Linked DNA regions of Homo sapiens. The protein of the gene in region 2 purifies or fractionates together with the protein of the main gene of each other region. This does not show direct contact. Each region holds a gene or a part of one and is shown on either strand. Other genes may lie near its edges.

The links. The genes of interacting proteins can lie anywhere in the genome.
Region 1: the proteins of RXFP1 (region 2) and ABCB9 purify together in Homo sapiens (affinity purification with mass spectrometry; one large-scale study listed by BioGRID and IntAct). This does not show direct contact.
Region 3: the proteins of RXFP1 (region 2) and KCNT2 purify together in Homo sapiens (affinity purification with mass spectrometry; one large-scale study listed by BioGRID and IntAct). This does not show direct contact.
Region 4: the proteins of RXFP1 (region 2) and PDZD8 purify together in Homo sapiens (affinity purification with mass spectrometry; one large-scale study listed by BioGRID and IntAct). This does not show direct contact.

The regions. Positions count from the first base shown.
Region 1 is NC_000012.12:122,959,964-122,964,463, reverse strand, and holds part of ABCB9 (ABC-type oligopeptide transporter ABCB9), read left to right. Parts: intron 1-4,141; 5' UTR 4,142-4,228; coding exon 4,229-4,500. UniProt on the Homo sapiens protein: ATP-dependent low-affinity peptide transporter which translocates a broad spectrum of peptides from the cytosol to the lysosomal lumen for degradation.
Region 2 is NC_000004.12:158,519,346-158,525,605, forward strand, and holds the start of RXFP1 (relaxin receptor 1 isoform 1 precursor), read left to right. Parts: upstream 1-2,536; 5' UTR 2,537-2,631; coding exon 2,632-2,680; intron 2,681-6,260. UniProt on the Homo sapiens protein: Receptor for relaxins. The activity of this receptor is mediated by G proteins leading to stimulation of adenylate cyclase and an increase of cAMP.
Region 3 is NC_000001.11:196,605,641-196,610,644, reverse strand, and holds the start of KCNT2 (potassium channel subfamily T member 2), read left to right. Parts: upstream 1-2,204; 5' UTR 2,205-2,335; coding exon 2,336-2,430; intron 2,431-5,004. UniProt on the Homo sapiens protein: Sodium-activated and chloride-activated potassium channel. Produces rapidly activating outward rectifier K(+) currents. Contributes to regulate neuronal excitability.
Region 4 is NC_000010.11:117,281,441-117,285,940, reverse strand, and holds part of PDZD8 (PDZ domain-containing protein 8), read left to right. Parts: intron 1-141; coding exon of another isoform or gene 142-170; exon of another isoform or gene 171-247; intron 248-469; coding exon 470-2,673; 3' UTR 2,674-4,500. UniProt on the Homo sapiens protein: Molecular tethering protein that connects endoplasmic reticulum and mitochondria membranes. PDZD8-dependent endoplasmic reticulum-mitochondria membrane tethering is essential for endoplasmic reticulum-mitochondria Ca(2+) transfer.

The sequences.
Region 1 (4,500 bases), on a different chromosome or scaffold from region 2:
ACTGCTCTGCCCCAGCCTGGTGGATGACCTGAGACAAGCCTCACCCCCTCCCTCTGTGGGCCTCAGTTTCCCCATCTGCAAAATGTGGCTTTGGTAGTCTGCGATATGAGTGTTTGAAATTTTGTTTATTCTGATGAAGATAAATAGGCTTCTGGAGGCGGGGGGCATGACTGGTACCCTGGGCTGTTGGGGGATGGGGAAGGAATTCCCCCAGAGGCTGGGAGTCAGGTTGGGAGAGTCAGCCAAGCCCCTGGGCTGCTGTCCAGGTTTTGAGTCTCTTGCGGATCTGCCTCCTGTTCCACTTCTGAGCCCGAGCCCCTTTCTGGGGACTGAGGGACCCCATGTGCCCACCACGAGGAGAGCAGCAGCTGAGGCGGCTGGCAGCACCTGGTGCAGCCGGCAGTGGCTTGGCTGGGAGGCCTGGAATGGCACCAGGCCAGGAGCTTCCCTCCCTGGGCTCTGACTGGAGCTCACCCACTCGCTCGCTCCCCACGGCCTCTGCATTGCAGCAGACAGGAGCCTGCGTGGGCAGCACAGGCAGGGCTGGGGAGGGAGCCAGGACCTGGGCTGAGGGTGTCCGACCATCCTACCCACTTCCCCTTGCCCTTGACCCTGCTTGGCCCTGACCGTCTTTGGAGGGGCAGCTGCTGACTAAGCAACTGTCATCTCTGCGATGGGCTTCGGTGTGCCTGGAGGTGTGGGGGTGAAAGCAGGGCCCAGGCTTGGAGGTTGTTATATCCCCCCACTCCATTCCCCCTCTGCATCTCAGACCCCTTCTCAGCATTAGTAGGGGTTGTGCCTACCTCCTGGAGAGGCTGTTTTGAAGGGTTGGAGCTATGGAGTTGAGAGTACAGATTTTGGAACTGGACGGCCAGGGTTCACATCCCAGCTTGTGACCCAACTCTGTGGGTCACCTAGCTCTGTGACCCAGGGCAGGTCACTTAATCTCTCTGTTCCTCAGTTTTCCTAACTGTAAAATGGGGATAATGATAGGACCTACTTCATAGGGCTCTGGTGAGTGCTGACGCATGTAAGTGCCTGGAGCCAATGTCAGCTGGCACCAGCTGCTGTCATTGCCAGCAATTAGCCTCAGCAGTCTTATCACCTCTGCCACACGGCCCAGCCCTCTGCTGGGGACCCTTTTCCTTAGATGAACACTTCCCGGTAGCATTTTCCTTCACTCTGTCACCCAGGCTGGAGTGCAGTGGCGCAATCTCGGCTCACCGCAACCTCCACCTCCCAGTTTCAAGTGATTCTTCTGCCTCAGCCTCCTGAGTTGCTGGGGTTACAGGCGTGCACCACCATGCTCGGCTAATTTTTGTATTTTTAGTAGAGACGGGATTTCGCCATGTTGCCCAGGCTGGAATCGAACTCGTGAGCTCAAGCTGTTGCCCATCTTGGCCTCCCAAGAGGCCCAGATGGGATTACAGGTGTGAGCCACCATGCCTGGCCCCTGGTAGCATTTTCTATATTGAATGTTATCTTAGTTTAGGGGTGAAGAACACAGATTCTGGGCTCAGACACCTATGAATCCACATCCCAGCTCTGCTATTCAGAAGCTGTGTAATCTTGGGCAAATTCTTCACTTCTCTGGGCCTCAGTTTCTCCATCTGTTAAGTGGAAGGGATGACAGTGCACATCTCACAAAGTTGCTGTGAGGATTAAATAGGTGGGGCCACCTGGATTTGAAGCACATGGTGCAGGGCAGGGCTCACAGGAAGTGCAGTGTTACATCCCTGTCTGCTTGTAGTTATTAGACAACTGCTTTGTGCCAGGCATGCAGTAGACAGGTGGAGAGGCAGATGCTGGGGTCCTACACTCACTGACTGCCTCAAGTCATCCTGGCTTGGGCCCTTGTTGGCTGAATGTCTGGATCAGGTGGTTTTGTCTCTCTGTGCCTCAGTTTCCCTAACTGTAAACGGGAATATGGAAACCCTGGCCTCGTGGGACTGTGTGAGGTTCCAGTCATGCCACAGTGTGAGCGGTTTGGGCACCTGGGCGCCAGAGCTTCGGGGAGAGGATCTCTCTCAGGATGGCCCCTTCCCAGCCACGACAGTCATCCCCGCTGTCACCCAGCGCCTCACCCCTCCTCTTGGGGGATCTAGAGCCCAGCCCATTTTGCAGATATGACAACAAAAGGCCCACGGGAGGAAGGACTGGAGCTGAGACAGGAGGTAGCACCCAGGGACACACCCCAGCCCGGTCCTAACCCTACCGTGGACAAGCCCCACTCACAAACTCAGGCCTCCAGGCCCACTTCCCGGGTGTCCCTGCGGCTCTGGGGGAGTCCTGAGGGACCCAGTGCCGGGAGATGCCTTGGATAAAGCAGACATCAAGATTCAGAAAACCAAAGGGGCCTAGGGCTGGGCACGAGGGCCAACCTGGGCAGGAGGAAAAGATTCTGGAAACTTCCAAGCAGATGCCAAGGTTTCTGGATTGCTGTGTGGCCTGCAAGCCACCCCCACAGCTGTCAAGTTCCCTCTTAGACCAAAATAGTTTATTTGGGGTTGCAGAGATAGAAGGCCTGACGTGGGAGGAGAAAAGTGGACAAACATTTATTAAGCACACACTGTATATGGTTGATTACAATCAGCAGCAATTATGCACCAGGCACTCTGCCCAGAACTGACACATTGAACCTCACACTCACATTTTGCAAATGAGGAAACAGGTTCAGAGAAATGAGTAGTGGTAGTAAAGACAGCGGCTGTTTATTAAACTCTGCTTATCTCAGCTTCGTCCTCACTATGGATGCAAAATCCTCCAGATACTCCCCACCCTCTCTGATCTCATGGGGCCTTGCTGCCTTCCCAAGGGGCACTCCTGCCTTGGGGCTCTGGCACTGTTTCACCTGTGCCAAGTGCTTTTCCCCAGATAGCCACTTGGCAGACTTCCATAACTCTTTCAAGTCTTGCTCAAGTGTTACCTACCCAGCGAGGTCTTCTCTGGCCCCCTATTTAAAATTGATCTCTGGCCCCGCACAGTGGCTCACGCTTTTGATCCCAGACTTTGGGTTACTGAGGCATGTGGATCACTTGAGGTCAGGAGTTTGAGAACAGCCTGGCCAACATGGTGAAACCCCGTCTCTACTAAAAAAAATACAAAAAGTTAGCTGGTCATGGTGGTGGGGTACCTGTAGTCCCAGCTACTTGGGGGGCTGAGGCAGGAGAATCGCTTGAACCAGGGAGACGGAGGTTGCGGTGAGCCGGGATCGCACCACTGTACTCCAGCCTGGGCGACAGAGCAAGACTCTGTCTCAAATAAATAAATAAATAAAATAAAATTGATCTCTGTCTTCCCCCACCCCTATCCTATTCACCCTCACCCCATCCTATTTACCCCCCTCTTTTTTCCACCACAACCCTTATCTCTTTTTTTAATTAAAAAAAATTTTTTTTTTTAGAGATAGGATCTTGCTGTCACCAGGGCTGGAGTGTAGTGGCATGATCATAGCTCACTGTGGCCTCGAACTCCCAGGCTGAAGAAGCGATCCTCCCATCTTGGCCTCCCAAGTAGCTTGGACTACAGGAGCATGCTACCACACTCAGTTAATGTTTGTTTGTTTGTTTGTTTGTTTGCTTTTTAAAGACAGGGTCTCACCCTGTTGCCCAGGCTGCTCTCCAACTCCTGGCCTCAAGGGATCCTCCAACCTTGGCCTCACAAGACACACATTATTTCCTTATTATCTTTTTTTTTTTTTTTTGAGATGGAGTCTCGCTCTGTCACCCAGCTAAATTTTGTATTTTTAGTAGAGATGGGGGTTTCACCATGTTGGCCAGGCTGGTCTTCAACTCCTGACCTCAGGTGATCCACCTACCTCGGCCTCCCAAAGTGCTGGGATTACAGGCGTGAGCCCATTTCCTTATTATCTGTCTCCTGCATGAGTATGTCATCTCCAGGAGAGCAGGGATCTTTGTTCTTTTTGTTCATGACAAAGAACAAAGAACAGCACCTGGCCGCAGTGGGCACTCAGTAAGTATCCCTTGAATGAGTGGAATCTTAGTACCCGGGAAGTTGATATTGCCATTTTACAGATGAGAAAACTAAGGCTCAGAGATGTCAAGTGACTTTCTCAAGGTCACACAGCCAGCGAGTGGCAAACCTGAACCCCTTGTGCTGATGTTTGCTGTTGTCCCTACAGGCCTGGCCTCGCCCTGTGGATGATGATGGCCTTGCCCCCGTGAGCTACAACCTGGCCTTCAGCACCCGCCCACCTCCAACCAGCAGGATGCGGCTGTGGAAGGCGGTGGTGGTGACTTTGGCCTTCATGAGTGTGGACATCTGCGTGACCACGGCCATCTATGTCTTCAGCCACCTGGACCGCAGCCTCCTGGAGGACATCCGCCACTTCAACATCTTTGACTCGGTGCTGGATCTCTGGGCAGCCTGCCTGTACCGCAGCTGCCTGCTGCTGGGAGCCACCATTGGTGTGGCCAAGAACAGTGCGCTGGGGCCCCGGCGGCTGCGGGCCTCGTGGCTGGTCATCACCCTCGTGTGCCT
Region 2 (6,260 bases):
AAAAGAAAGTCGTGGTTTATTTCCGTCATGGTAGGATGAAAAAGCTGCAAGATTACTGTGGATGTGTATAGTGCAAACAGGTTAACAATGCTTGTTTGGTTTGACTCACTAGGTTGGTTCGAGAAGTAATTTTCAAATAGAAGGTTTTGTTATTCAAAGAGCCTCAACGAGGTTTTAAGAAGAGATTCAAAGATAAGAAAGGGTATCAGCCTCTATTAGCCTATGTCGAGGGCAGAAACCCCTGACATGCTCAGCCAAGTGGAGGCGTTGACATCACAGATTCTATTGGGCCCAGAGTGCAAGTTTATAATTGAACAATGTAGGCAGGAAGTGAAGGCTAAGAACATACACCATCTGTTTGTTTTTAAAACTCTTTAATATGTGTCTTCAAACTGCAAAACAAGAGAATGAGAAAACACACTTTAATTCAAATCTTAATAAGAATTCTATTTCAGTAATCTGGTAAAAATAATAATAATAATAATAATAATACCTAAACATTACTGAGGGGAGTCTTTTGCTACAATGCAGTGGTTCTCAACCAGGAGCGATTTTGTCCTTCAGGAACATTTGCCAACGGCTGGAGACACCTTTAATTGTCGCAACTGGAGAGTGCTACAGGCATCCAATGGGTGGAGGCCAGGGAGGCCACTAAACGTTCTACAATGTAAAGGACAGCCTCTCACAATAAGGAATTCTCCAGCCCATAGTAGAAACAGTACCTGCCTCAATGTATGGCCAGGGTGTGCTATATTCACTTTTGGGTTTTGCCACCAAAATACTTCTATAAAACTAATATGCCAGATTCACTGTCTTTGCCAAAAATAAGACAGAAGTGACACCCTGAGAAAACAAACCATGAAAATTATTCATTCAGATGAATATCTATTTTAGTAAAACCTAATAGATTCTTAATAAAATGAGAGGTGATTTGGAAATTTTGCCCTGATAATTTGAGAGATTAAAAATACATTGTTAACGAGTACTTCCTGGCTACCCGCCCACTAATTGTATGTATCTGTGATATTCGCTCAGGCAAAAGTTTCAAAGTTTGCAAAATAACATCAGAATGATTTTGAAGACCTCTGTATCAACAGCTTACTTTTTGTTGACAATTCCCAAAGCAAGTCCTTCAATTTTACTATTAAGAAGCTTCTTATGGGTCCCCCTTCTGAAACTGCCCTTGACACGTTCCACAGCATCCTTCCAAAAAACTACTATTTCTAAATAAATTTAAAAAAATCCATGAACCACTCACATAATAATCTTAAAATACTTCAAGTATTATTAAAAATAGTGAACATTTTATGGGACTAAATTCAGTTAACCATAAGCATGTCCATCAAAAGAACAGTGTCTTCACTAAATCTACTACTAAATGAATAAGGGTTTGTGAAGATTTCTATATTAAAATTCTTCTTTCATGGAATTAATTATATTTATGGAGGGAGGAAGCAGTGTTAGTATAACCTTTTAGCCCTCATTTAGAAATAGGCTTATTATATTGAAGTCAATGATATACAGATATGTAATTCAAGCAGATTCTACGTGTATATCTACGAGTAGGGAGCATTAACCTCAAAAATAAATTCCTCATGTCAAAGGGCTACTACTCACTTGTTCCAGAAATTCATTAGCAAGTTGAAAAATAAGAATGACCCAGTCTGGTTAAAAGAAAATGCAGTCTACAGAAATGTTCATTGCATTTTCATACTTTTCCCCCCACTGGTCCAATAATAAAAATCATCATATGAATGACTGACACTTAGTAATCACCTATAATGCAGTAGGACCTACACCCCTCACTATGCCCTGTGCTGGCCATCACAGCTACCTTGCTGCATACATATTTTGCTCCAGAAAAGCAAGGCTCAGCCAAGAGTCAGCACCTGCATAACTCTAAAGTCACAGGGGACCTACAATTCAAACCCAGGCCAGCTTTGCTCCAGGACATCCACTGACATGTCATGGTCTCCATTGTAGCAAAATTCACAAGTTCAAAAGGATTTTAAGTTGTTTTATTCCTTTGTATTCTTCTTTCAACAATATCCTATTGTTCGAATTCCCAAACTCAAACAGTTTATAAACGATTGCTGTAGTTAGACTTTAATCGCTGTCCCACAGTTAATTCCACAAAGGCATTTTGCCCTGTGTAATTCCATTCTTTTCCTATTCCTGTGTCATTAGGGGAAAAAATATGTTTTTGCTTATGAGATATCTCTAGCTCAATTTCTTTCTGGTAGTGTGTCTTTGATCAGTTCAGACATTTCTCAGACTTCGTATACGCCCTCGTTTGTAGATAGCGTTATGTGTTCTCTGAAACTTTTTATTGCTTTTCAGCTTTGTGTGTGTGTGTGCACGCGCACGCGTGCGTGTGTGTAAAGAAGGAGATTAGGACATTTAGAGAAGGAGGGCGGGGAGGAGAGATCCTGAGAATAGAAAGGAGGAAAGAAAAAAAGAGGAATGGAAAGAGACAGAGAAAGGAAATGGGAGTGGAAGGAGGGAGGACTGCTTTGTAACTGCTAAGATTGCAGACAGAAATAGCACACAACCACTGTGAGCTGTATGCGATTCAGAAACCAAGACCAAATTTTGCTCACTTTCATTAATCAGTTGCTCAGATAGAAGGAAATGACATCTGGTTCTGTCTTCTTCTACATCTTAATTTTTGGAAAATATTGTAAGTATGCTCAGTATCTAATTTTGTATACCTTAGTATTTTGTGGAATAACCACAAGCACAAATGTTTACTCCTTATATTTATGCTTTTAAGATAAAATGCACTTGCTGATAAAATTGTAATCTCACTTCAGAATTGTTCTTCTTAGTATATGTCTGGTATTTGTATTAAAGACCATAATATCTTATCATAGTCAATAGTGAAGCGAGACTGATGTGCCGTGTAAACCTAGGCTTCATAATAACCAATTCATATAATTGATATTTTAAGCAACATTATAATATTTAAAGAGTAGTAATTCTTAAACTGTATTCAAGGAATATATTCATTGAAAACTCCTAGGAAAGTTCTCACATTTGTGCCAGTTTCTGTATAGTTGTAATGCTCTGTCGCCCTTATTCTTTGTCATTTGCTATCATAGGTGTGCTTCTGGGCAGGGAGATGCATTCATAAAACTCTTTTTATTTAGCAAGGTTTATCACTGTTCCTTGAAAGAAAAACAAGGGAAAGCACAAAGCAATGAAAAACATAGGCACAAAAGAAGCTCCAAATGGGCATGTTATTTTTACTATAATGACAAATTTTGTTTTCTCTGTGTGTGCTATGGTTTATTTTTCAGAAAATCTTTTTTAAATTCAAGGGAAACAGTTGTTGTGTGTTAAGCTCCATTTGAATTATAGTATGTAGACAGAAATAAAGTGTTTTTGTTTCTTAGGTAATAAATGATGAAAAAGTCAAAGCCAAACCAAGAACAAAACTTTCTGGGTATCTTTAATACTTTATGATTCCGGGAATGTGGGCTTTTACTAATTTAGAAATTAACAAGCCTTTTTATAGTCCTGTGTCTCTTAAAAGTTTGCATAAGTTTTGTTAACTCTGAGCTCTTCTATTAAGGAATGTCTCAGGGTAACTTTCAATCCTGACTCTCCCAATTGTAATATGTCAAAGTGATTATATCTTCCTTTTCCTCCTTCTTTCCTCCTTCCCTCTGCTCCATCGCATCTAAAGTTAAAGGACAGCATCAAAACCACAGAAACTATTCAGAATCCTGGGGAAATATTCTAGTCCTAGCCTTCTCCATCTCTAATCTTGATTACTGACAGTCCTATTTTTTAACTGAAGGGAAAACAATAAATTGCAAACCACCATAAAAAATGTAATGTTTCTAATTATAATTGCATGTTTAAACTACCAGAGCTTTTGACATTTGTGGCCAACAGCTTCAAAAATTAATGCCATATTTTACCATCCCTATTCCATTTCAATGAAATGAATAGATTAAATAAGCCAGAGGAATATTTCCAAAATAGTCTTTCTAGTATGAAGAATTTAAGGGTATATAAAAGGTGTTTAGGGCAGGTTGGGAAGCAACTTTGGCCACTGTGTTACCAGTCATTTCAGGTTAGGAAAAAAATTCCATGTTTACCTGTACCCTTTTGTTAATAAATTATTTTCATGAGCAGAAAATAATAATGATGGTGGTGATGATGATGCCAAAACCCTCTGTCTCTTTAAATTTAACTTCTCTTTTGATTCAAAAGAAAATTTGGGAGTGTAGTGTAAGTTGAGAGCTCCAAGTTCTCATCCTTCCACGCCTTCCCCAGGAAATGAGGGCATAAACATTTGCAGCAAAGTTTGGCAAGGCAATTCCTCGCTACATGGTATTAACTGCATGTTAGGGTGGGGGAACACTTGTCAGGGACGCCCTGAAATAGCACCCACAGCCGTGGCTCACCTTGAGTTTAGCCCCTCACCCAGGCCCCACCTAAGTGAGAATTTCCTGGGCACATAGCAATGGAAATCAACAGCCACACATAAGGACAAATTCTTAAACCTCTGTAAATGCCCCATGGTTGTTGTTTCTTTGTGTGTTTTCTTTGTTTTGTTTTGTTTTTATATCCACTTTCCTGTAACGGGAAAGGCGATGTGATATCATGGAAGACACCTAACCTAAGACGCTTAGCTGCACTACCATGTACCGGTTCTGTGGTTTTCAGCAAATGATTTACCTCTTCTGAGCATGTGAAATGGCAATCAAATCCTTTACCCTGTCTACCTTTCAGAAACCCTGTGTTCCATTCTTTATTACAAAAATTACTTCCTGAATCTTCACAACAACTCTATTATGTGGATACAATTAAGCACACGAGGTAGGACATTCAGTGCCTTGTCACAAGACTCCAGCTAATAAATGCCAAGATTGGAATGCTTTCAGAGCCCGTGCTCTCTCCCCTAGACCATGATAATTCTCAGTAGCCATAATGTGTATAAATGGGCTTTGAAAACTATAAAGCCCGTTACAGACGTAAGCAACTATTAGTCATCCTTTCAACCAAAAATACCTATGCATGCCAGAGCAGTGACCATGCTTTATTCACCTACCTTGTTAAAGTAAGCATGGTCCCTGCTCTAAAGGGATAGGATGGAGAAGACGGCACGTTGATCTAGAATTCAATTCAATAAGACAAGTGCAAAAATTGAGGTCCACACAAACAGAGGTGACATTAAGACTTAGAAAAGATTTCCTTTTAGCCTTGAGAATTTTTCATTCTTTAAAAATCCTTCTGTCCATAGTCTAATTAATTGTATTGTGCCAATGTTAATTTTTTAGTTTTGTAATGTACTAAATTTATGTAAGATTAAGGAAAGCTGGGTGAAAGGTGTATGGGACCTCTCTATACTATTTTTTCAACTTCTTGTAAGTATATATTTCAAAATCCGTGGTTAAAAAACAATCCCCAGGACAACTTGTATTATAAGTTCTTATCAGAAAATGCTGTATTATTTCTTAAATGATATCACTAAGCAAAACAATTCTTTTAATGTTTTAGATAGGCAGGAAACAAGTGAAGATATAGGAAATAGAAGGAGTTCAAACATAAGCTTGATCCACTTTAGTATTTTGCCAAGGACCGGCCCAGCTTAGTAAGGTCTTCTCTTTCAGACTCCTAGAGACACTTACCAGGCTACCTGGCCTTTGCTTTGGATCCCAGCACTGGCATAACTTGTAACAGATTTTTTCTGTAACTATGAAGAAGAGAAAAGGAAGAGACAATTCCAGAACAGACCATTAGCTTGGTTAGTACGTGGAAAAAGAGAATGTTCGCATATTTATCCAATTCCAAAAGATGGGAGAATAAACATACCAATATGCAGACCACAGAGGTATACTGTGTCCCACCTTATACTTTGGCGGGGGGGGGTTGGGTTTTTTTTTTAATTTGTATAAATTTATGGGGCATGAGTGCAATTTGGTACATGCCTAGATTGCATCGTGGTCAAGTCAGGACTTTTAGGGTAACATGCGTGGTACCAATTAAATAACTTCTCACCACCTTATATTGTGGAGGCTGCTGACAATTTTGTGTTGTTTTTACTACATATTTTGAATCATATTTTTAAGTTTCAAATGGAAGGAAAATTAATGAATCTGTGCAAATGCACCCTGATCTACATAAAGGGAAATTATTATGTTTATGAACTAAATAGTCTTTCAAGTACAATTTCACACATTAGTACAAACTTGTTAAACTAAAATGCCTGGAGTTGAGTATTCTAGTTAGGTTTAACTTTCTGTCTG
Region 3 (5,004 bases), on a different chromosome or scaffold from region 2:
TTCTGTCATCCAAATAATACAGTTAGACTGTAACTATAAATATTAACTTGGAACATTACAAATAAAATTAATAGAATCATTTTAATAGGAGATGATAAGGTCTAAAATATAAACCAGATCTCTCTCTCTATCTCTATCTGTATAAACTAATAATGTAGCAATATTACTTTCTTATTTAGCAAAGTAATTACAAAAGTTCGTGCTAAATTATGATTTCATAAACAAACACATACCACAGGAGTGCAAGCATGGATGGAAAAAAACATGCTTAATTTCCTAGATTTAATAGCTTTTAATGCAACTCCACACCTATTTGTTGAAATGTGGCTATTTTGAAGGTCCCGTGCTAGAGGCAGCTAAGCCACAGGGAGAGGGGAAGAGTTGAAAGAAAAACGCACAGATAATCGTATAGCGGGTCAGGTTATAGTAAGCATTCCAGGCAAAATACTCACATGGGTTATGAAGGGTTCAAACAAAGGGGTTCAAAGGAAGAAGACATCATAAGAAGCTGGAAAAACCAAGAAATCTAATGGAGGATATGTAATTTGAGATGGGTCTGGAAGGATGAGTAGGATTTTGAAGACAGAGACAAACAGTATGACTTTTATTTCAACTGCTATTCTTCAGGTTTCAGTAGTCATTGTATTTCATTTGATGTTACAAGTTTTGGTAATTTCTTCCTTCATTTCTAGCTTCTTAAATAAACCCTCTGCTACATGACCTCTACTGAGCATTAATCATGCCAAATTAATCACTATTTTCTGGATAAGCCAAATATTCTAAAAAATCCCTATGCCTCTACTCATACTATTCTCTCTGCTTGCTTCACCTTTGCTCTTTTCCCTAAAGTAGGCTGCGAACGAATATAGAAGGCTTGGTTCATTTTCAATGTCTTCCTTGACCCCCACCTCGAAGAAGTATGTGTACCTCACAGGTATTTCCAAATCCCTCTGTATGTTCTTTGATTATTGTCTCTCACATCGTATCCATTTATCAAGGAACAAGCTTGTTCCTCCACACAGAGCGGTTCTTAAGTAAGGGCAGGAGAAGCCATATGGTTATCCTCCGGCCCAGGCTGTCAGGTGGTTGGTATTCGGTCTGTATATACTCTGATGCAATCAGTTTTTGAAGGAAAGAACGGTAAGCGCAAATAGAACCATAGCTTGTGTAGCAGGGTTCATGTAAGCAGTGGTTCTTACTGAAAAACAGACCCTGTTCTCTCGGGCTCACTTCTTCCTCCGTGTGAACCACTAATAGGAGGGGACCGAAGGCTGAGGCCAGGCCACCTGGAAGCCCACAACGCTGCTAGTAGCAGCGACAGCAGTAACAGCAACTCACCACTGTAAAATCCTCAGTGCGTTTCCATGTGCTTTCCCTGTCATCTAAATGCTTCTCTTCAGCGGCCTAAGGTGGCCCTTCTTTTTCCCCGAGTTCAGGGAAACACCTCCCTTCTTTCAGAATGTGAGAAAAAAATGGGATTTTCCTGGGGCTGAGAGTGGGGATTCCCTTTCCAGAAACGTGCAATTTTTTCATCCCGCCCACCTGGACTGAAGGCAATCAAAGCGAGGGAGCTCGTGGCATAGTGGAACACTCCAAGCACCCTGGCCCCCCTCCTCCCAGAGAAGGGTCTGGAGCCCCGCAATCCGCTAATTAGCTCGCCCCCATTGGTTGTCCCCAAGGCACCCCCGTGCCGTCACTGTGCTATGCTAATGAGGGGGAGTCTCATTGGCTGGGCCTCCAGCTCCATCTCCACAGGGAGATTGCGGGGAGAGCCGGGTTGGCCGCGTCTGGGGCCGAAACCCACCGCCCCCGATTCCCGCCAGCTCAGGGCTGTGCCGGATGCAAGCCCGCCCGAGGGAACAGTAGCCGGGAGGCTGCCCTCTGGGAGGATCTGGCAACTGCCTTTAAGGAAAGTGCTTCACCATCAAGCGGCGCTCACTCCCACCCCTCTCCCCTCTTTCTAGGCACCGCGCGTCTTTTTCGGCGAAGTAACTTTTTATACCCGCCTCCCCCTAGTCCTGGGGACCAGAGGCGGTGCCGAGCCTGGGGGCGGTTCCTTGGCAGCGTTGATTCTTGTCAGAGCCAGACTTTTGCTCCTGGGTTGGGTTTGCATCATCCCCATTACACCCTCGGGAAAGAGGAGCCAGCCCCCTTTCAAGCCTTAGCTTCCGGCTCCAAGCGGACCCCCTCCCCCTCCCTGTCCCCTTCCCCTTCTCCCATCCCTCTCTCGGCCACAGCGTCTTGTTAGTCCTCTCCCTGTACTCCGCAATATTTTCTTTCTTTCTCCCTCCTCTCCTCCATTTGTTGTTTGATGTTTCCCACTCTTTGAGGAAGGATGGTTGATTTGGAGAGCGAAGTGCCCCCTCTGCCTCCCAGGTACAGGTTTCGAGATTTGCTGCTAGGGGACCAAGGATGGCAAAACGACGACAGGTGAGTGGTGTGGTGGAGGATTGTTCTGTAAATATTGCTGAAAAAGAGACGGAAATGGGAGGGCCGAAGTGGGGAAAGGAGGGAGAAAAGGAAAACGGAGCCAGAGAGGGAGACTAGGCTGGGGGAGGGAGTAAAAGAGACTCTGATTTGTCTCTCCATTTTGACTCTATATAACTGTTGCTATAGATAAGGAACTCTTTTTCTTTACACTTTTCTTATTCTTGCAAGGTATTTATTGCATTCATTTGGTGCTTATTCTTTTGTCTATCTGTGCTTTTCTAGGATGTGTATAAGGCTGGTATCAGAGGTACAATACACCCAAATGGTATGCAATATCATTTCCAGAAAATTTGCATTTTTTCCTTAGGTGTGGTTAATCAAACTCAAAATTGCATGCAAGTTGTTTGAAAAAGCACATTAGAAACTTAAAATCTCCTGAGTCTATTTACCTCCTCCTTGTCTGTGTTGTCTTGAGTAGGTATCTACTTGGCACTGGAAATTTTATGCTGTTTAAACATTTTGGAGTTTTAAGTAGACAATTGGTTTAAATATGTAACAGGTAGTTAGTGAAAATGACAACCTTTTTAATACAATATACTCACTTTGAACAGGTGACTCTGACCATTATGAATAATGATGTTTGTATAACATGATACAACCTTTTCATAACTAGTATATTTTTTTAACTGAAACAGAATATATGTCTCAAAATTAAAATTAAGTTTCAAAACTAGAATATTTATTGTTAGCAAAATATTGTTCATGTGTTTTATTTATAGCATTACTGCTTTGCACAAACTTCTGAAATTCCTCTGTCTATTTCTGTCTCAAGCACATTTTGTATTTCAGCGAATTTAGTATTTTCTGGAATAGTCATCCCATATATCACATGCCACATTTCTTTGTTTTAAAATAATACATGTATACTAACTAGGTTCTCAACTCAATTGAAATGTTTCATTGAAGTTTAGTTTAGTATTGATGTGCTATTTTAGTTATATAAAAGATCCATTATTGGTCCAATCCAAAATCCCCTCCTCATTCACCACTGACCAATACACTCTATTTCTTTTCTTCACCTTTTCAGCTCCCAATACCAACTCCTGTCTCTACACACTGAGGATTTTATCTTGAGCATCAATTATGGGCATCTTGTTTGGTCTCATATTAGTAATTTGAAAGGAGATGGATGTTTTGTAGAGGATATTTTGGTTCAATCTCTTTTTTAGGCAAAACCACACATATTGGCTAAAAATTTAAAGAAGTAATACCAATTTCTCAGTATTCTTGTAAAGTGTTTGGGTAAACTGAAGATAAAGAAAATAATTTTTAAGTGAATTTGTAATACAAATTGACATTTAGATAAACTGCATTAGCCTGGTTAAATGGCTTAGTAAGTGTAGCATGGTGTTCCTAGTGACTGAATGTATATTTAGTTCAGGACCTCAGGATCATTATATAGAATAGAAATCCTCTTTGTAGAAAGTGTGAGATAGATTAAACACATAAAGCACATACTTTGGTTATAGTGATGGTATTGTTGTTTGTTTGTTTTAAATATCATATCCAATATGTTAATTTTCATGTGGTTGCCCTCATTTTTCTAAGGATGCTGCAGAAATATTTTAGTAATTAAGAATTTTGGTTAGTTGAACACTGCCTAAATGGATCAGTGCCATATTAAAAAAGTTTTGCAGAATGGTTAAAATTTTATGTTCTATTAAAAGGTTATGCTAGCCCAACTTTAACTTAAAAAGCAGGCCACATTTACTACTAAAATAAGTTATTAAATATTTAAAACAATCATTCAACCATTTTTAAGGATTTGGCTACTTTTGTGGCTTCATGGAAAACTATTCTTTGGTTTTGGTTCCATTTGTTGTTAATCTTTGAAGGCAAGATACTTGGAATCAGAGAAACCCAGATTCAGTCCTTGGCTGTTTCCTTCACTAGCTGAGTGGCCTTGGGAAAGTCATTCAGCCATTATGAGATTCAGCAATATTATTTTTTATAATGGGAATTATACTGTCTACCTTATAAAACTGTGACAAGAGGAAGGATGGAGAGGCGCAGAACTAACATTTAGTTGGAAATAAGTACTCCCAAGTTCTTTTAACTGTGCGGTATGTTCTTTCTTAGTTAATCCTCAGACAAACTCTGAATAGCAGGCAATTATGTTAGGCACAAGGAAACTGAAATTTTGGTAAATTAAATACGTGTCTTGGATATTATATCTTATCAGTGTAAAGATAACTCTTCAGTTCAGTTTATTATTATTCAAATCCCTCAAGAAATTCTTAAGTTCTTTTCACTTAATTTATTTGAACTTATAAGAATAATTTACAGCACCTAGCATAGTTTAGGTGCTCATTAAATATTAGTTCCCTTCTTCACTTCTGATTTGCCCTTTGCAATCCTTTTTTTCTCCCTTTTCAGACTCCTAAGCTAATATGTGGTAGGTAAAGTCATCTTCCTTGTCTATAATATGGTGACAAATTCCTCTTTGCAATTACGCCTGGATAGCAATCTCATTCTACTCAGTTATCTTCTTGGACTCAATTCTTATAGAGTTGA
Region 4 (4,500 bases), on a different chromosome or scaffold from region 2:
TGAATCTTTCATCATATGTCTTGTAATCCCTGGAGTATTTTAGAATTTCCTTCAGTGGAATCACAGCTTTCCCTCACTCTAAGTCTGATTTAGCCATTAATAGAATCCTTTAAATAGATCTCTCTCTGTTCACTTCTTCAGTTCAAACTGAGAGATGTCATCTAACCTAAGAAGAGATAGAAAGCAATTAGGAGTTAGCATCCTGGCACTCTTTTTGGGATCCTGTGTCATCATCTGGTTTGAAAAGGTAAACATCTCCAGGATATCAGCACATTCAGGGTTTGAGAATTAGCACACTGATTCATCCAAAAGCCAAATAAAATATTGTTGAGATTTTCCTATTATTCTTCTATTAGTTAAATAACCAGAGGTAATGGCAATTATATATATTTAATTAAATACATTTAACAAATGTAGTAATTTCTATTGCAATAATTTACATGTTTTCCCTTTTAAAATCTTAAACCAGGTGTGAAAATCACATCAACACTGCAAGTGTTGAAGCTTATCAAGCAGGCTGGTGACCGAGTCCTGGTGTACTATGAAAGGCCTGTTGGCCAGAGTAATCAAGGTGCAGTGCTGCAAGATAACTTTGGCCAGTTGGAAGAAAACTTTTTGTCAAGCTCATGCCAATCGGGTTATGAAGAGGAAGCTGCCGGGTTGACAGTAGATACTGAAAGTAGAGAGCTGGATTCTGAATTTGAAGACTTGGCAAGTGATGTCAGAGCACAAAATGAGTTCAAAGATGAGGCACAATCATTAAGTCATAGTCCCAAACGTGTTCCAACAACACTTTCTATTAAACCCCTTGGAGCTATATCACCAGTTTTAAACCGTAAATTAGCTGTAGGAAGTCACCCACTACCACCGAAAATTCAGTCCAAAGATGGAAATAAACCTCCACCCCTAAAAACTTCTGAGATAACAGACCCAGCACAAGTGTCAAAACCAACCCAAGGATCTGCTTTCAAACCACCTGTGCCACCACGACCACAAGCGAAAGTTCCTTTGCCTTCCGCCGATGCTCCAAATCAGGCAGAACCAGATGTTCTCGTTGAAAAGCCAGAGAAGGTGGTGCCACCTCCTCTTGTAGATAAATCTGCTGAAAAGCAAGCAAAAAATGTGGATGCCATAGACGATGCAGCTGCACCTAAGCAATTTTTAGCAAAGCAAGAAGTGGCCAAAGATGTCACTTCAGAAACTTCCTGCCCTACTAAGGACAGTTCGGACGACCGTCAAACATGGGAATCATCAGAAATTCTTTATCGTAATAAGCTAGGAAAATGGACAAGAACCAGAGCATCCTGTTTGTTTGACATAGAAGCCTGTCACAGGTACTTAAACATTGCATTGTGGTGCAGGGATCCTTTCAAGTTGGGAGGTCTCATCTGTTTGGGGCATGTTAGTTTAAAACTTGAAGATGTGGCTTTAGGATGCCTAGCTACATCAAACACGGAATACCTTTCCAAATTGAGACTGGAAGCCCCCTCACCTAAGGCTATAGTCACTAGAACCGCACTACGCAATCTGAGTATGCAAAAGGGATTCAATGACAAATTTTGCTATGGTGACATTACTATTCACTTCAAATATTTGAAAGAAGGAGAATCAGACCACCATGTAGTTACTAACGTAGAAAAAGAAAAAGAACCCCATTTGGTTGAAGAAGTTTCTGTTCTCCCTAAAGAGGAGCAATTTGTTGGACAGATGGGTTTAACAGAAAACAAACACAGTTTTCAGGATACTCAGTTCCAGAACCCAACATGGTGTGACTACTGTAAGAAAAAAGTTTGGACTAAAGCAGCTTCCCAGTGTATGTTTTGTGCTTATGTTTGCCATAAAAAATGTCAAGAAAAGTGTCTAGCTGAGACTTCTGTTTGTGGAGCAACTGATAGGCGAATAGACAGGACACTGAAAAACCTTAGGCTGGAAGGACAGGAAACCCTCTTAGGCCTGCCTCCTCGTGTTGATGCTGAAGCTAGCAAGTCAGTCAATAAAACAACAGGTTTGACAAGGCATATTATCAATACTAGTTCTCGTTTATTAAATTTGCGTCAAGTCTCTAAAACTCGCCTTTCTGAACCAGGAACCGATCTCGTAGAACCTTCACCAAAACACACACCCAACACGTCAGACAACGAAGGCAGTGACACGGAGGTCTGTGGTCCAAACAGTCCTTCTAAACGGGGAAACAGCACAGGAATAAAGTTAGTGAGAAAAGAGGGTGGTCTGGATGACAGTGTTTTCATTGCAGTTAAAGAAATTGGTCGTGATCTGTACAGGGGCTTGCCTACAGAGGAAAGGATCCAGAAACTAGAGTTCATGTTGGATAAGCTACAGAATGAAATTGATCAGGAGTTGGAACACAATAATTCCCTTGTTAGAGAAGAAAAAGAGACAACTGATACAAGGAAAAAATCACTTCTTTCTGCTGCCTTAGCTAAATCAGGTGAAAGGCTACAAGCTCTAACACTTCTTATGATTCACTACAGAGCAGGCATTGAAGATATAGAAACTTTAGAAAGTCTGTCTTTAGACCAGCACTCCAAAAAAATAAGCAAGTACACAGATGATACAGAAGAAGACCTTGATAATGAAATAAGCCAACTAATAGACTCTCAGCCATTCAGCAGCATATCAGATGACTTATTTGGCCCATCCGAGTCTGTGTAGCAGACAGGTCTATTTAAGCTTTCAAATGAACAGGGTAAAGTTGCATCTAAAGTACCACAGATACAACCATGTTTAAATCCTCGTATGCACTCTGGCCTGCTTCTCCAGTTACTTGCTTGTGTAAGAACAAAAATGAGAAAGGTTGTTTTCCAGTAAAAACATGACCAGCTTACTAATTGGTTGTTTTGGATTGCATTTATAGCTATGCTTTTTTGGGTTTATACTGGGAATTTATTTTTACTAAATTATTTAACTTTTCTAATTATGTAATTATGTAAGCTAGCTTTTCATGTTTATGTATGTATGGTGTCCCCTTGTGTTATTTTTCTTCCTCTTGGTTTTTGAATTAGTGTTAAATAGAATACTGTCTAGATTCTTAAAATATTTTCATTTCCATCATGGTTATAACAAATTTGCTGCATGCCCAAACTGACAACAGCAATCACTGAGGGAACAGGTTTTGAATCTTTCTTTTGTGTTATGAAGTTTATCGTCTCTACTTGCTTGAGATTTTTGTTATTTTGGGGGTTTGGGGGTGCTTTTTGTTTTGTTTTTGCCAAATGTAACATGAAAGCAGATGCTGCAGCTTTAGTCTGTTATGCTGATTTAGTAAAAAAAAATTTTTTACATATATTGCTTGCTTTCGATGCTTCTGTGAAATTTTTTTCTAAAGCTTTTGTGCAGCTGTATGGTAAAAATATGGTGATTAATTTGAAGAGCTTACATTGAAAGACAATGTAATAGGAAATAAATGTAGATTGCAGTTGGTCAAGAATTTTGTAGAGAGGATAACAAGACTTAATTACTGAAAAACAGTAACATAGCATTTTGAAATATAATCTTTTAAAATATTGATGCTTTCCTTTTAAATGGAAATTTAAATTTTATAATTAAAAGTTTAAACATTTATGATAATTTTCCTCATCAGTTCTCCCATAGGAAATAAAGCATGTGAAAGGGTATTTAAAGTTTTGGAGGACTCTTTTTAAAATGACTGTGTTGATAACTAGTTTGGGCTGGTTTTGTTTTAGAAAAAACATTTTCATGTAGGAGTATTCTGTGAAGGAAAGGAATCATGCAAAATATACTTTTTGCTTTGGCGTCTTACAGTTGTAAAGGAATGGTGATCATTCTGAATACTTCTGTAGTGAGTATTCATTAAGAAAAGAATGACAAAAATAGTATTCATACATAGGAATTGGGACCAGTTCTCTGAAAATGAAGATATACTCACACTGGGTCCATTTTACGGGTCCCAGTAACATTTGACTGAGGGAAAACAAGTAAGCTCGACTGTTGTTGGGGTACCTTAATGGTTTCGGTCTGTTATATACCTATAAAATAGACAAGTATATGTTTGTCCCTTTGTAGGTAACTGCTATGATGATTGCTATATAGTGAAACTGACATGAGTTTAAAACTAGATGGAGCAGCTTTTATTGCTGGCAGGAAAAAGCATGGTGTAATATTAAGGACTGGGGCCCAGGTCTAGACTCCAGGACTCCATAAAAGAGTTTAAGTTCAAGCCCTTCCATTAATGAACTGTGTAAGCATAGGCAGTTACAAAAGGACCCATCTCTAAAATGGGAATAATAATACTTTACCTCCCTCACAGTATTGTTGTGAGGGAAACAATAGCATAACTGCAAAAGTGCTTTGAACAGTAAAAAGATATACAAGTAAAAGGCATTATTTATATGAGTAAGAAAGACATTTTTGAGGGGAGAAAAGTTATTCCACTTTAAAAATCAATAGCCAAGTCTCATGCCTTTTGTTACTTTAGTAAGCGAAAATTTCAGGTACTAAATACCTTTCTTAGCCAAGTTT